3 separate regions of the Homo sapiens genome follow, and all the other regions are linked to region 2. The links come from fine-mapping of genetic effects on gene expression. A gene starts in region 2. Each other region holds a variant in brackets. All regions are shown on one strand. Distances are from middle to middle. Region 1 overlaps CRISPLD2 (cysteine rich secretory protein LCCL domain containing 2). Region 2 holds the start of CRISPLD2 (cysteine rich secretory protein LCCL domain containing 2). Region 3 overlaps CRISPLD2 (cysteine rich secretory protein LCCL domain containing 2).

Region 1 (4,000 bases), 85 kb before region 2:
GATCAGGCACCAGGGAGTCCGGCTGAGCACCTTGGGATGCTGTTGCTTCAGTGAGGGGATGAGATGTCACCTCACCCACAGGCCACAAAGTGATGGACACTGAACATCAGTCAAAGGAAGTTTCCTGACTCTCCATATACCCCGCAATGACAAAATAAAAATAAAAGCAAAACCCCGAAGCCCTCCTGAAGACGCCCCTTCTCCCCTGGTGCTGGAAATTCACTGCCTGACAGCAAAGATCCGGAAGGCCTTTCCATCCCGAGGAGTCCCCAGGCTGAAAAAAAGAAGAAAGAGGGCCCGTTACTGAGAGATCTGGAGGGCCTCCTGCAGGGACTCTGGGTGGGCAGGGAGACCTGGGTGCCTCCTGCTTGCTCCCGTAGTGGAAGAGCCATGGCCAAGGGACACTTCCTTGAAGCCGCCAGACACAGAGCCTGCCTTGAGTTGAGAACAGGTGGCAAATCCCATTTTCTCTGCACATGAGCATCCATCTGATTCTAGGTCAAGGCTGTTAAGTTATTTCCTTTTAACTCAGGGATCTGCTGGACCCAGTCTGTCTGGATTGGACTCACCCTCCGAGAATTCTGCTTGGTTTCACTACCACCTGTCAACCCGAACAGTGGTGTCTTGGGAGAGATGAACAGGTGCTATCTCAGCACTACTGCATATGCCAGGTGCTTCACCGCCTTCCACCTTCCTCCTGAGGGAGCTGTTATCGCTCGTTCACAGGGGAGGAAACGGAGACACCAGGAAATAAAGAGATTTACCCAGGGTCCCATGGCTAGTAAAAACTGCCCTCTCACAAGAGGAGTTAAATCCTTCAGCTAATCAAAGATGGTTTTTAAAAAAGAGCTTTAGGCCAGGCGCGGTGGCTCATGCCTGTAACCTCAGCACTTTGGGAGTGAGGCGGGTGGACCACCTGAGGTCAGGAGTTCGAGACCAGCCTGGCCAACATGGTGAAACCCCATCTCTACGAAAAATACAAAAATTAGCCGGATGTGGTGGCAGGCGCCTGTAATCCCAGCTACTCGGGAGGCTGAGGCAGAAGAATCACTTGAACCTGGGAGGCGGAGGATGCAGTGAGCCAAGATCAAGGCATTGCACTCCAGCCTGGGGGACAAGAGTAAGACTTTGTCTCCAAAAAAAAAAAAAAAAAAGAGCTTTATTGGTCAGGCACGGTGGCTCACACCTCACACCTGGAATCCCAGCACTTTGGGAGGCCAAGGCAGGTGGATCACTTGAGGTCTGGAATTCGAGACCAGTCTGGCCAACATGGTGAAACCCTGCCTCTACAAACAATTAGCCAGGCATGATGGTGTGCACCTGTAATCCCAGCTAGTTGAAGGTTGAGGCAGGAGAATCACTTGAACGTGGGAGGTGGAGTGTGCAGTGAGCCAAGATTCTGCCACTGCACTCCAGCCTGGGCAAGAGAGTGAGACTCTGTTTCAAAAAACAAAAAAAAAACCAAACCAACTTTATTAAGTTTAACATACCGTATAAACTCAACCTTTCTAAGTG[T/C]ACAATTCAATGGTTTTTAGAGATTTTATAGAGTTGTGCAGTCATCTCCACAATCCAGTGTTAGACAATTTTTAAAAATTGTTTTAGACACAAGGTCTGTCACCAAGGCCAGAGTGCAGTGGCATGATCGTGGCTTACTTCAGCCTTGACCTCCTGAGTGCAAGCGATCCTCCCTCCTCAGCCTCCTGAGCAGCATGTCACCAAGCCTGATTGATATATTTTATTTTTTGTACAGATGGAGTCTCACTATGTTGCCCAGGCTGGTCTCAAACTCCTGGGCCCAAGTGATCCTCCTGCCTCAGCCTCCCAAAGTGCTGGGATTATGGGTGTGAGCCACCGTGCCTGGCCTAATGGTGTCTTTTAAGGCATAAAAGTTTTAAACTTTGATAGAATACAATTTATCAATTTGTTTTCATTTATAGATTGTGCTTTTGGCGTCATATCTAGCAAACCATCCAAGGTCATGAAGGATTTATACTTGTTTTCTCAGACATCTGTAATTTTTAGCTCTTACATTTCAGCCTTGGATCCATTTTGAGTTAATTTTTATATATAGTGTGAGGCAAAGGTCCAACATCACAGTTTTACTTGTAAATATCTAATTGCCCTTGCATCATTTGTTGAGAAATTATTCTCTGCCCACTGAATGGTCCTGGCACCGATGTCAAAATCAATTGACTGGAAGTGTGATGATTTATTTTATGGACTTCCAATCATTTTTTTTTTTAATTTTTTTTTTAAATTTTTTTTTTTACCTTTTTTTGAGACCGAGTCTCGCTCTGTTGCCCAGGCTGGAGTACAGTGGTGCAATCTTGGCTCACTGCAACCTCTGCTTCCCAGGTTCAAGTGATTCTCTGGCCTCAGCCTCCCAAGTAGCTGGGATTACAGGTGCACACCACCACGCGGGGCTAATTTTTGTATTTTTAGCAGAGATGGGGTTTTGCCATGTTGGCCAGGCTGCTCTGGAACTCCTGACTTCGTGATCCTCCCCTCCTTGGCCTCCCAAAGTGCTGGGATTTCAGGCGTAAGCCACCGTACCAGGCCCAATCACGTTCTCTTAATCTCTGTGTCTGTCCTGATGTCAGCACCACCATCTTGATCACTGTCGCTGTATAGGATGTTTCAGAATTGGGAAGCCTAAGTGCCCCCTCCCGCTTTGCTCCTCTTGCTGTGGGCACAGCCTTCTAGAACACCAGGGACGCCTGGGAGCCTACCAAGGGCCACCACGGCTGTCTCATTCTCTAGATCCTCCCTGATTTTCTGCCCCAGATGATAACTGCACCTTTGGACCAACTGGCCTTCCTGTGTCTTGGCCACCAGGTTTGATACTGTTCCTGACAATGGCCAGAGGTGTGTGGTTTTCCTCGCTCTGCTTCAAATCAAGAAAGCCGCTGGATGGCACAGCCCCACCCCAGTAGAACTTCCAGCCACAGGAGCTGGTGGGGTGAACAGGAGCGGTCCCAGGCTCAGACACCACAGATCCCTCTGTTCTTATCTGAGGTCCACACTTTTTTGAACAAACACCTCCCTGTTCGTTGTATGACTCTGTGGTGTATTTCTGGAGTCCTGAAACAGCTGTTTTTGAACACTGCTTTTGGGAATAAGATTTCCCATGCATCCTGCTTTGGCATTCTGCAAATCTCACCTCTGGAGCATGTCTTCCAGACGCGAGTCTCCATCCCTACACTAACGTTTAGTAACTGTGTGACAAAGTCACTAAGTCTCTTTGGGCTTTTTTTTTTTTTTTTAAATTTTAAGACAGAGTCTCGCCCTGTTGCCCAGGCTGGAGTGCAACGGTGTGATCTCGGCTCATTGCAACCGCCGCCTCCCAGGTTCAAGCGATTCTCCTGCCTCAGCCTCTCAACTAGCTGGAATTACAGGCATGCGCCACCACACCCAGCTAATTTTTGTATTTTTTGTAGAGATGGGGTGTCACCATATTGGCCAGGCTGGTCTCTTGGCCGGGCTGGTCTCAAACGCCTGAGCTCATGATCCGCCTGCCTCGGCCTCCCAAAGTGCTGGGATTACAGGCTTCTAAGGATACTTTCCGGAATGTTCTGTGACAGTGCCGATGTTGGGGGTACCTGGGTTCTTGGGGGAGGTCCAGGAAGGGGCCAGGCTGGAGAGGAGACCCGGAAGGTGGGAGGAGGGGAGCATTAAATTGACGGGAGGCCATTGTTTTGGACTGGGCTAGGCCCAACAGACCAAACCAAATCAGATCGGAGTCACCCTGCTAGGTGCCACCTCATCAAACTGAACTTAGAAATGGGCTGGTTTTAGGCCAGGCACGGTGGATCATTCCTGTAATCCCAGCACTTTGGGAGGCTGAGGTGGGCAGATCACTTGAAGTCAGGAGTTCGAGACCAGCCTGCTCAACACAGTGAAACCCCTACTAAAAATACAAAAATTAGCTGGCTGTGGTGGCAGGCACCAGTAATCCCAGCTACCTGGGAGGCTGAGGCAGGAGAATCGCTTGAACCCAGGA
Region 2 (4,000 bases):
AGTGCCCAGCTAATAGAGCAGGCAGTGAGCTCATCCGTGGAAACCCTGGGCATGTCTGGTCTGTACTAAGCATCATGTAAATGTCAGCTGCTTGTATTATTACAAATGGCATTATTACTATTCCTACTCTCACATCTTAAGAAACTCTGAAAAAATCAAAATCACCCTCTTGGTTTCTCCTCCCTGGGTACATTGTCCAGTGGTTTTAACTGGAGCCCCTGTAAGACAAAACATCACCTGTGTGAAGGTCAGGTTCATGGGTGGAGTTGGCAGTGGGCAGGGAAGTGTCTTAAAGAAAGCAGGGTCAAGAGTGCAGATAGGACCCACCTGGGGGTGACAGCATTCCATACCAGCTGGGGGATCTTAGGCAAGCACTTCACCTTGCTGAGCCTCAGTTTCCTCAGCTGTGAAGTGGGCATCAAGAGGCCTACTCCCCGGGGTGTTGCAGCGATGACAATACAGGTAAACTGCGTGGCACAGACCGCGTGCCTGCCGCACAGGCAACACAGTCACACACCCACCCCTTCTCCTGAGTGGGAACAGCCAGATCAGGGGCAGAAGCAGAAAATCAGGTGCATACAACCCAAGGAGCCCTGGGACAGCCGACAGTCACAACTCATGGCCTCAGTCTACTGGAAAGGACCACGCCCCGGTCCTGTTCTGCAGGCTCTCCTCACTGTCAGACATCAGACCCTGGATGGGGAAAGCAGGCTCACCCCATTCTACCAGGGCAAGAGGTCCAAAGGCCCAAAGGGGAAACTCACAACCCCACTCTCGGTTGCAAGGCAAGCTAGGCATTTGCACGGGATGCTTCTCTCAGCCAGGGCAGCAACTCACATTTTGGCTGAGAGACGCCCAATTCAAGTTGGACTGCGATGAGCAGGCATCAGCGAAGTCCTCCCTGGCTTGTCCACCAGCCCAGCCTTAGCAAGGGAGGCTCTGGGTCTGCAGCACATGAGGGACTAGCCCTGGCTCTGTCCACGTGGGACGACCGATCTCCCCCACACTCCAGAGTGAGCCCTCCGCTTCCAGGGTAACTCTCCCCACGCAGGAGTTATGCAGGTGCCCGCTCTGGCTAAAGAAACCCAGAAACGTGTTCCCCCAGACTGCAGAACCCTGACATGGCCCCAAGTCTCTACACATCCATTTGAAGCTCTGGAGACAGACAGAGCTGGGTTCCAGCCCTGGCTCTGCCCGGACAACTTACTTCACCTCTCTGACCCTCAGCATCTTCATCTGAAATGTGGGAAGAAGGCTACCTTGCAAATGAAATCACAGAGGGGCGTGGCCCTCTAAACTGCAGCTGAATGCACATGCCACTAGATCACCCTGGTCCTCCAGACATGAGTAGGACACATTCTAATGCCTGCCATATCCATGCCATCAGCTTTCCAGTTATTGACACCCACTACGAACACAGGAATGCAACAAATGCTAGTGAACTGCACGAGGAAGGCAAGAGAGTAAACAGCCTCTAAGGAGCAGGATTCTGCGCTCAGATCGGCGTTGAATCCTGGGTCCTTGGAGTCCTGGCTGCGAGGTCCTGGACAAATGAGTTGTCCTCGCTGAGCCTCAGTTTCTCCATCTGCAAAAGGGCATGTCGCAAAGCTGTGTTCCGCTATGCAAGCAGAGCACTCGGTGTGGTGCCAGCACACAGTCAGCCCTGCGAGGTGGCATCTGTCCTAGTTATTCCAGCTTCTCGGGGGGGTAACAGTTTGCAAAAGGGAGAAGCATGGAAATCACACTTACCTCCGCAGGGCTCCAATCACCAGCTCGCTGGCGTCTCCCGCGTCCAGCAGACGCGGTAGCAGCGGCGACAGCGCGGGCACAGCAGGCACAGCGGGCACAGCGAGCAGACAGCTCAATAGGAGCAGCCGGAGACGCCCTGGGATGCGAGTGGGTGCCGGGGCTCAGCGTACCGCCTCTTGTAGGCTCCCCGGAGCCCGGAGGCCACGCCCCCAGATCGCTGGCGGCGCTGGTAGGACCGAGCATCACCGGCCCCGCCCCCGGCCCCGCCCCGCAGGCTCAGCGGGCTGAAGGAGGCGGGGGGCAGCTGAGGCGCGGGCGCCGGGTGGGCGAGGAAGGCGGGGCCGCTGGCCTCCAGGGCCGGCTAGGGACAAGGAGACGCTCAGCTCCCTCGCCACTGGCCACACAAGCATAGTTTTCATTGAGCGCTTACTATGCGCCTGGCGCGGTGCCAAGCGCTTCCCACAAGGGGCTTGCAAATTTACCAAACCCCAGCTCTCTGCAGCTCAACTGGAAAATAGGAATAAGGAGGCGACCTCCCAGGATTTTAGCAAATGAAATCCGCAAGGGCTGGGCGCTGTGAACTGTGGCGCGGTGCAGAGTACACAGTTACTGAGGTGACTCCCACCCTCTACACGTGCTCAGAAAACTTAGGCCCCCTCTTCCCAATTTGCAGACGAAGAAAGGGAGACTTGTTTCCGGATGGGGCCGCTAGCGCGGGGATCCAGGCTCCGCACTTTACCTTCAACGACCCTAGGACGCGTTCCCAGGAATCCAGGGAGGTGGAAATCACCTCATTTCACAGATCCAGTAGCTGAGGCTTGGAGAAGAGCGTGCCCCAAGTCCCGTAGCTAGGAGCAGTGCAGCATGTTCATATCTCTTTTGCCCGGAGGCATTTAGCATTTTTAACCTGTGCAGGTACATACGGAAATCAATTTAGAGCCAGACGAAATCACCTTTGAAACAGGTAAATCCACGTTCCTTAAGAGCTAAGGGACTGCCCCGTGCTCCCGCCTCAGTCACAAAATGTGGACGGGTATGCAGGCACTGCGCGGTAAGGTGCTGGGGCCCAAGGGCAGGAGGGGGCCTGTCCGCACTGCTCATCTCCGCACCAAGACACCGGAATTAGCTCCTCCAGCATTAACTCATTCCCCAAATACCCATCGAGTCGCTCTGTGCCGGGCCCTGTGCTATACAGCAGGCACAAACAAGACACCTCCGGGATCTCAGAGTCTGGGGCCCCCACGAGCTAGGGCACGTGGGAGAAACAAGGATGGGGAATGGGTGGAACAAGGACTATGGAAGGCTGCCTGCGTGACGTGGACTCAAACAGGGAAGGCTTGCCTAAGATTTTGGTGCGGCTCAAATGCAGATACAGAATAATGCAGACTGGCCGGGCGCGGTGGCTCACACCTGTAATCCCAGCACTGTGGGAGTTTGAGGCGGGCGGATCACCTGAGATCAGGAGTTCGAAACCATCCCGGCCAACATGGTGACACTGTCTCTACTAAAAATACAAAAATTAGCCGGGCATGGTGGTGCATGCCTGTAGTCCCAGCTACTTGGGAGGCTGAGGCAGGAGAATCGCTCGAACCTGAGAGGCAGAGGTTGCAGTGAGCTGAGATGGCGCCATTGCACTCTAGCCTAGGAGACAAGAACAAAACTCCATCTCAAAAAGATAATAATAATGCAGATGTTTTCTGTTATCTTTTTTTCCTCTTTTTGTTTTACTTTTCTCAGTCTTTGAAGCATCATTCTTCAGAGGCACTCAACTGGCATGCAGTCATCCAATAATTAAGCACCTACTATGTGCTGGGCTCTGTTTCAAGCACTGGAGGGCTCAGTAGTGAATAAGACTGTTCCAGAACAACAGTCCTTGGATTGACAAAAGACAAATCCAAGGGGAGAAGAGATCTGTGTTAGCAGATGCCTTTGGAGGCCTGGCACGATGGCTCAGGCCTGTAATCCCAGCACTTTGGGAGGCCCAGGCAGGTGGCTTGAGTTCAGGACCAGCCTGCAACATGATGAAATCCAGTTGCTACAAAAAGTAGCCAGCATGGTGGCATATGCCTGTGGTTCCAGCCACTCAGGAGGCTGAGGTGGGAGGATTGCCTGAGCCTGGGAGGTGGAGGTTGCAGTGAGCTGAAATCGAGCCACTGCATCCCAGCCTGGGTGACAGAGCAAGACCCTATTTCAAAACAAAACCAACCAACCAAACAAACAAACAACAACAAAACAGATGCCTCTGAGTACC
Region 3 (4,000 bases), 90 kb before region 2:
GGGGTAGAAGGCAGGAGAGCAGTGGCTGAAGCAGTGAAGGCCTGGGAGACACTTTTAGAGGAGAAAACAGTGCAGGGAATGCCAAATGCATTGGTCAAAATAATGATATTAGGAGCAGTAACCATCTGTATGTCGCAGGACAAATGCCATACGCTGAGGATGCTGTGGGCAGAGCCGGAAGTGTTTCGCAAACTTCAGCCCTTATTATCCAATCTTGGTGATTTTTGCAATTGACCTGCACAATCTTAACTTACTCAACATTTTAAAATGGACATTTTAAAAGCCTGGTATTTCTTAAAGAGGAAAGCTATCCCCATCACGCATGGAAAAGGACCGCACTAGAGATGAGCCTGAGAGGAAGGCAGGCGCCTTCACCGGGGAGAGGAAAGGCCGGCCCCGTGCCCCCAAATTGCTCTGGGGCTTTGGTGCATTGAGGCACTCAGCGAGATGTGACTGCGCTTGGTGAAAAGGGGCTGCTTTGGGCTGATGCCTGGGAAGAAGGTGACCGTTACGAACTAAATTTCCCACCCTGAACACATAGGGTTTTCTTTGTTTGTTTTGTTTTTGAGATAAAGTCTCACTGTATTGCCCAGGCTGGAGTGCAGTGGCGCGATCTCGGCTCACCACAACCTCCTCCTCCTGGGTTCAAGCCATTCTCCTGCCTCAGCTTCCCAAGTAGCTGGGATTACAGGCGTGCACCACCACGCCTGGCTAATTTTTGTATTTGTAGTAGAGATGGGGTTTCACCATATTGGCCAGGCTGGTCTCGAACGCCTGACCTCAAGCAATTCACCCACCTCGGCCTCCCAAAGTGCTGAGATTACAGACACGAGCCACTGTGCCCGGCCCACAGGGCTTTGAAATGATTCCAGACACCTCCACAGGTTGCTACGTGGGTGACGCGTTTTGCTGCGCTAAGAACTTGGTGTGCCCCTTCTTCCCTGGAGAATGTGGCCTCACCCCTTATCGGACCCCGTCTGCGAGCTCCTGACCCTCACGACTGGACTTCCATACACATGCAAACCTGCCAGTGGGACGGACCCTTTGGGAGCTCTGGCTGTGGCCGGCTGCACCCTCGGCATCTTCTCCCAAAGCTGGGAGCTCCAGCTGTGACAGGTCACCCCGCCAGCCTTGGAGCTACTCTCAGAAGCCTCTGGCCAGCGCTGGAACTGCCTTCTAGGGACCTTACAGCGCTTCCAAGAACGGCTGGTAGAAGGTGCACCTCAAACTGAGGCCTGCTTCCATCCTAAGTGAGCAAGTAGGCCTTGATCATTCTGGAACTGACCCACTGTGGGGTTAATGGGCTTCGTCTGTCGAGTGTATTCTCTGTGAGGTTTGGTCTCATTCTCTCCCTGTTTAAGCACTGGGAACCTAAGGAAAAAACATCTTTGTGTAGCAATAAACTGTGTGATTTGTGAAATCGTACTTTGATCATTTCCTTATTGTAACCACACAAAACGATCCCTAACCCCCAATGTATTTCTTTCGTGTGTGTGTGTGTGTGTGTGTGTGTGTGTGTCTCGCTCTGTCACTCAGGCTGGAGTGCAGTGGTGTCATCTTGGCTCTCTGCAACCTCTGCCTCCCAGGGTCAAGCAATTCTCCTGCCTCAGCCTCCCAAGTAGCTGGGACTACATGCATGCGCCACCATGCCCGGCAAATTTTTGTATTTTTTTTGTAGAGATAAGGTTTCCCCATGTTGCCCAGACTGCTCTTGAACTCTTGGACTCAAGTGATCCTCCTGCCTCAGCTTCCCAAAGTGCTGGGATTACAGGCATGAGCCAGCCTGTGTATTTCAAGGTAGGGCCTTTAAGGAGGTAATTCAGGTTA[A/T]ATGGGTCCTAAGGGTGGGGCCCAGACCCAATATGACCGGTGTCCTTATAAGAGAGAGAGAGAGACACCAGGAGTGTACATGCCCAGAGGAAAGGCCATGTGAGGACACGGCCAGGGGCAGCCACCTGCAAACCAAAGAGAGGCCGCAGAGGAAACCAACGCTGCTGGCACCCTGATCTTAGACTTCCAGCCTCCAGAACTGTGAGGAAGATATCTCTGTGGGTTAAGTCACCCAGTCTATGGTATTTTGTTAGGGCAGCCGGAGCTTAGACAGAATGGCCTTGAGCCCACCACCACTCAGAGTGTGATCTGGGGACTGGCAGCATTCGCATCACCAGGATCTTGGGAGAAATTCACAGTCCCTGGCCCCAACCCAGCCTTGCTGAGCCCGAAATTGCATTTTGGCAAGCTCCTCCCTCCTTCCCGCGGATGGGGTGGAGGTCTCCACCAGGCCCTGGCTGTCAGCATCTCTGTGTATATGAGACATCCTAGCAGAAGCAGCCAACACAAAACAGTCCAGAGCCTGAAAGATGGTTTTCAATGTTTTATTTCACAAATTGTTCAGATTTGTTCATAAAAGATATGTTACAGGAACATTTTAGAAATCAAACCAGTTCTACTGAAACAATTGCAACAACGTGGCCCCTGTTCATGCAAAGCACAAAAAACATTTACAATAAAACTTTGTACACAGGAAGTAGCAAAATACATCATTTTTCATAGAAAAAAGCACACACATAAACTGCGGGCTGAGTGAGCCTACAGACAATATGAGAAACCAGCACACGCTTTGGAATACGGTAGGGCAAAACTCCTAAGGAAGCCGAAAATGTTCATCCTGTGGGCAGGAGAGCCAGGAACGCCGTTGGCTTGGTACAAGATCTTTTTAAACACAGGGTAAGTGTTGGTAGCACGAGGGGCCTCTATTCCACACACAGGAGAGGTGGTGCTAGGGACAGGGCTTATCATTTATAGTCTTGTTTCCATTTTCTGAAGACAAATATTCCAGTTTCAAAATGTTTGTGGGGATGATAAAGACAGCCAGGTCCATGGCCGGGCGCAGTGGCTCATGCCTGTAATCCCAGCACTTCGGGAGGCCAAGGTGGGTGGATCACCTGAGGTAAGGAGTTCGAGACCAGCCTGGCCAACATAATGAAACCCCATCTCTACTAAAAATACAAAAATTAGCCGGGCATGGTAGCTCACGCCTGTAGTCCCAGGTACTTGGGAGGCTGATGCATGAGAATTGCTTGAACCCGGGAGGCGGCAGTTGCAATGAGCAGAGATCACGCCACTGCACTCTACCTTGGGCAACAGAGTGAAACTTGGTCTCGGGAAAAAAAAAAAAAAAAAAAAAAAGACAGCCAGGTCCTGCTCTGGGCAAGGACTTTCTATCCTGCTAGGAAGGCCCAGTGAAGGAGGCATTAAGGAACCCGGGGACTTTATTTTTAAATGATGGGGTCAACTCACACTGGAAGTTTCAAGTCTCCCTTGAGTGGGATGCTTTGGAAGCGAGCCCACTGGGATCGTCCTGGACCCTTCACTAATTCTGCAAACCCCACAGGGCGATCTAATTTATCTTGCAGACACAGACACAGCCACAAAAGTCCAGCAGCAGAGCACCCAGCACCCAGAAGTTTCCCAGATGTTTGGTGGTAACTGGACTCACGACCTGACAGGCTGACCGAATTCTTCCTCTCCGACATTTGGGGCTGAGGAGTCAGTACCTATGAATTACGACTAGACTACAATGCACAAAGCACGTAGTCCTGTGAATTTTAGCTCAGTCAAGCTAAGAGTTGAACTGCTTTTTACCAACTCCTTAAAGGGGTGGGTTTTTGTTTTGTTTTAAACCTATTTACCTTCAGATTCTGCATTTATTAGAAAGGCAATCAAAGAAAGAAGGCATCACCTAGGTGCCCAGGTAGAATTTCTTGTCCAGTCTACAGTATCTTAGTTTTTGACTTTCTGCTAGTTCTTTCACCTAAGAAATATTTTGAATCAAATTTGAAACTAGCATTCACCAAAGTGATCTATTGGCTGGCCCGGTGGTAGAGAGTGGAATTTTCACCTTCTGCAAAAAAATGCTATTTACAAAAGGGTACTTCATTTCACTGTGGGCTTTTGGTCTGGGCTCATGAAGCACTTTTATAGAGTGATGGCAGCCAGGGTG

Evidence for each region.
Region 1: its variant is fine-mapped to the expression of CRISPLD2 in whole blood (TOPMed, PIP above 0.99).
Region 3: its variant is fine-mapped to the expression of CRISPLD2 in whole blood (TOPMed, PIP above 0.99).

The regions. Positions count from the first base shown.
Region 1 is chr16:84,902,862-84,906,861 of GRCh38, reverse strand. It overlaps CRISPLD2 (cysteine rich secretory protein LCCL domain containing 2), which reads right to left. Exons shown (of 15, transcript NM_031476.4): 15 at 1-274. The coding sequence ends at 220. Among named protein-coding and RNA genes, the nearest start is that of LINC02176, 23 kb to the left of the region's middle. The variant T/C (reference allele first, on the strand shown) is at 1,516.
Region 2 is chr16:84,817,883-84,821,882 of GRCh38, reverse strand. CRISPLD2 (cysteine rich secretory protein LCCL domain containing 2) reads right to left here and starts at 1,898. Exons shown (of 15, transcript NM_031476.4): 1 at 1,750-1,898. RefSeq lists a silencer at 1,936-2,125.
Region 3 is chr16:84,907,867-84,911,866 of GRCh38, reverse strand. It overlaps CRISPLD2 (cysteine rich secretory protein LCCL domain containing 2), which reads right to left. Exons shown (of 15, transcript NM_031476.4): 15 at 2,359-4,000. Among named protein-coding and RNA genes, the nearest start is that of LINC02176, 18 kb to the left of the region's middle. RefSeq lists a silencer at 1,597-1,712. The variant A/T (reference allele first, on the strand shown) is at 1,828.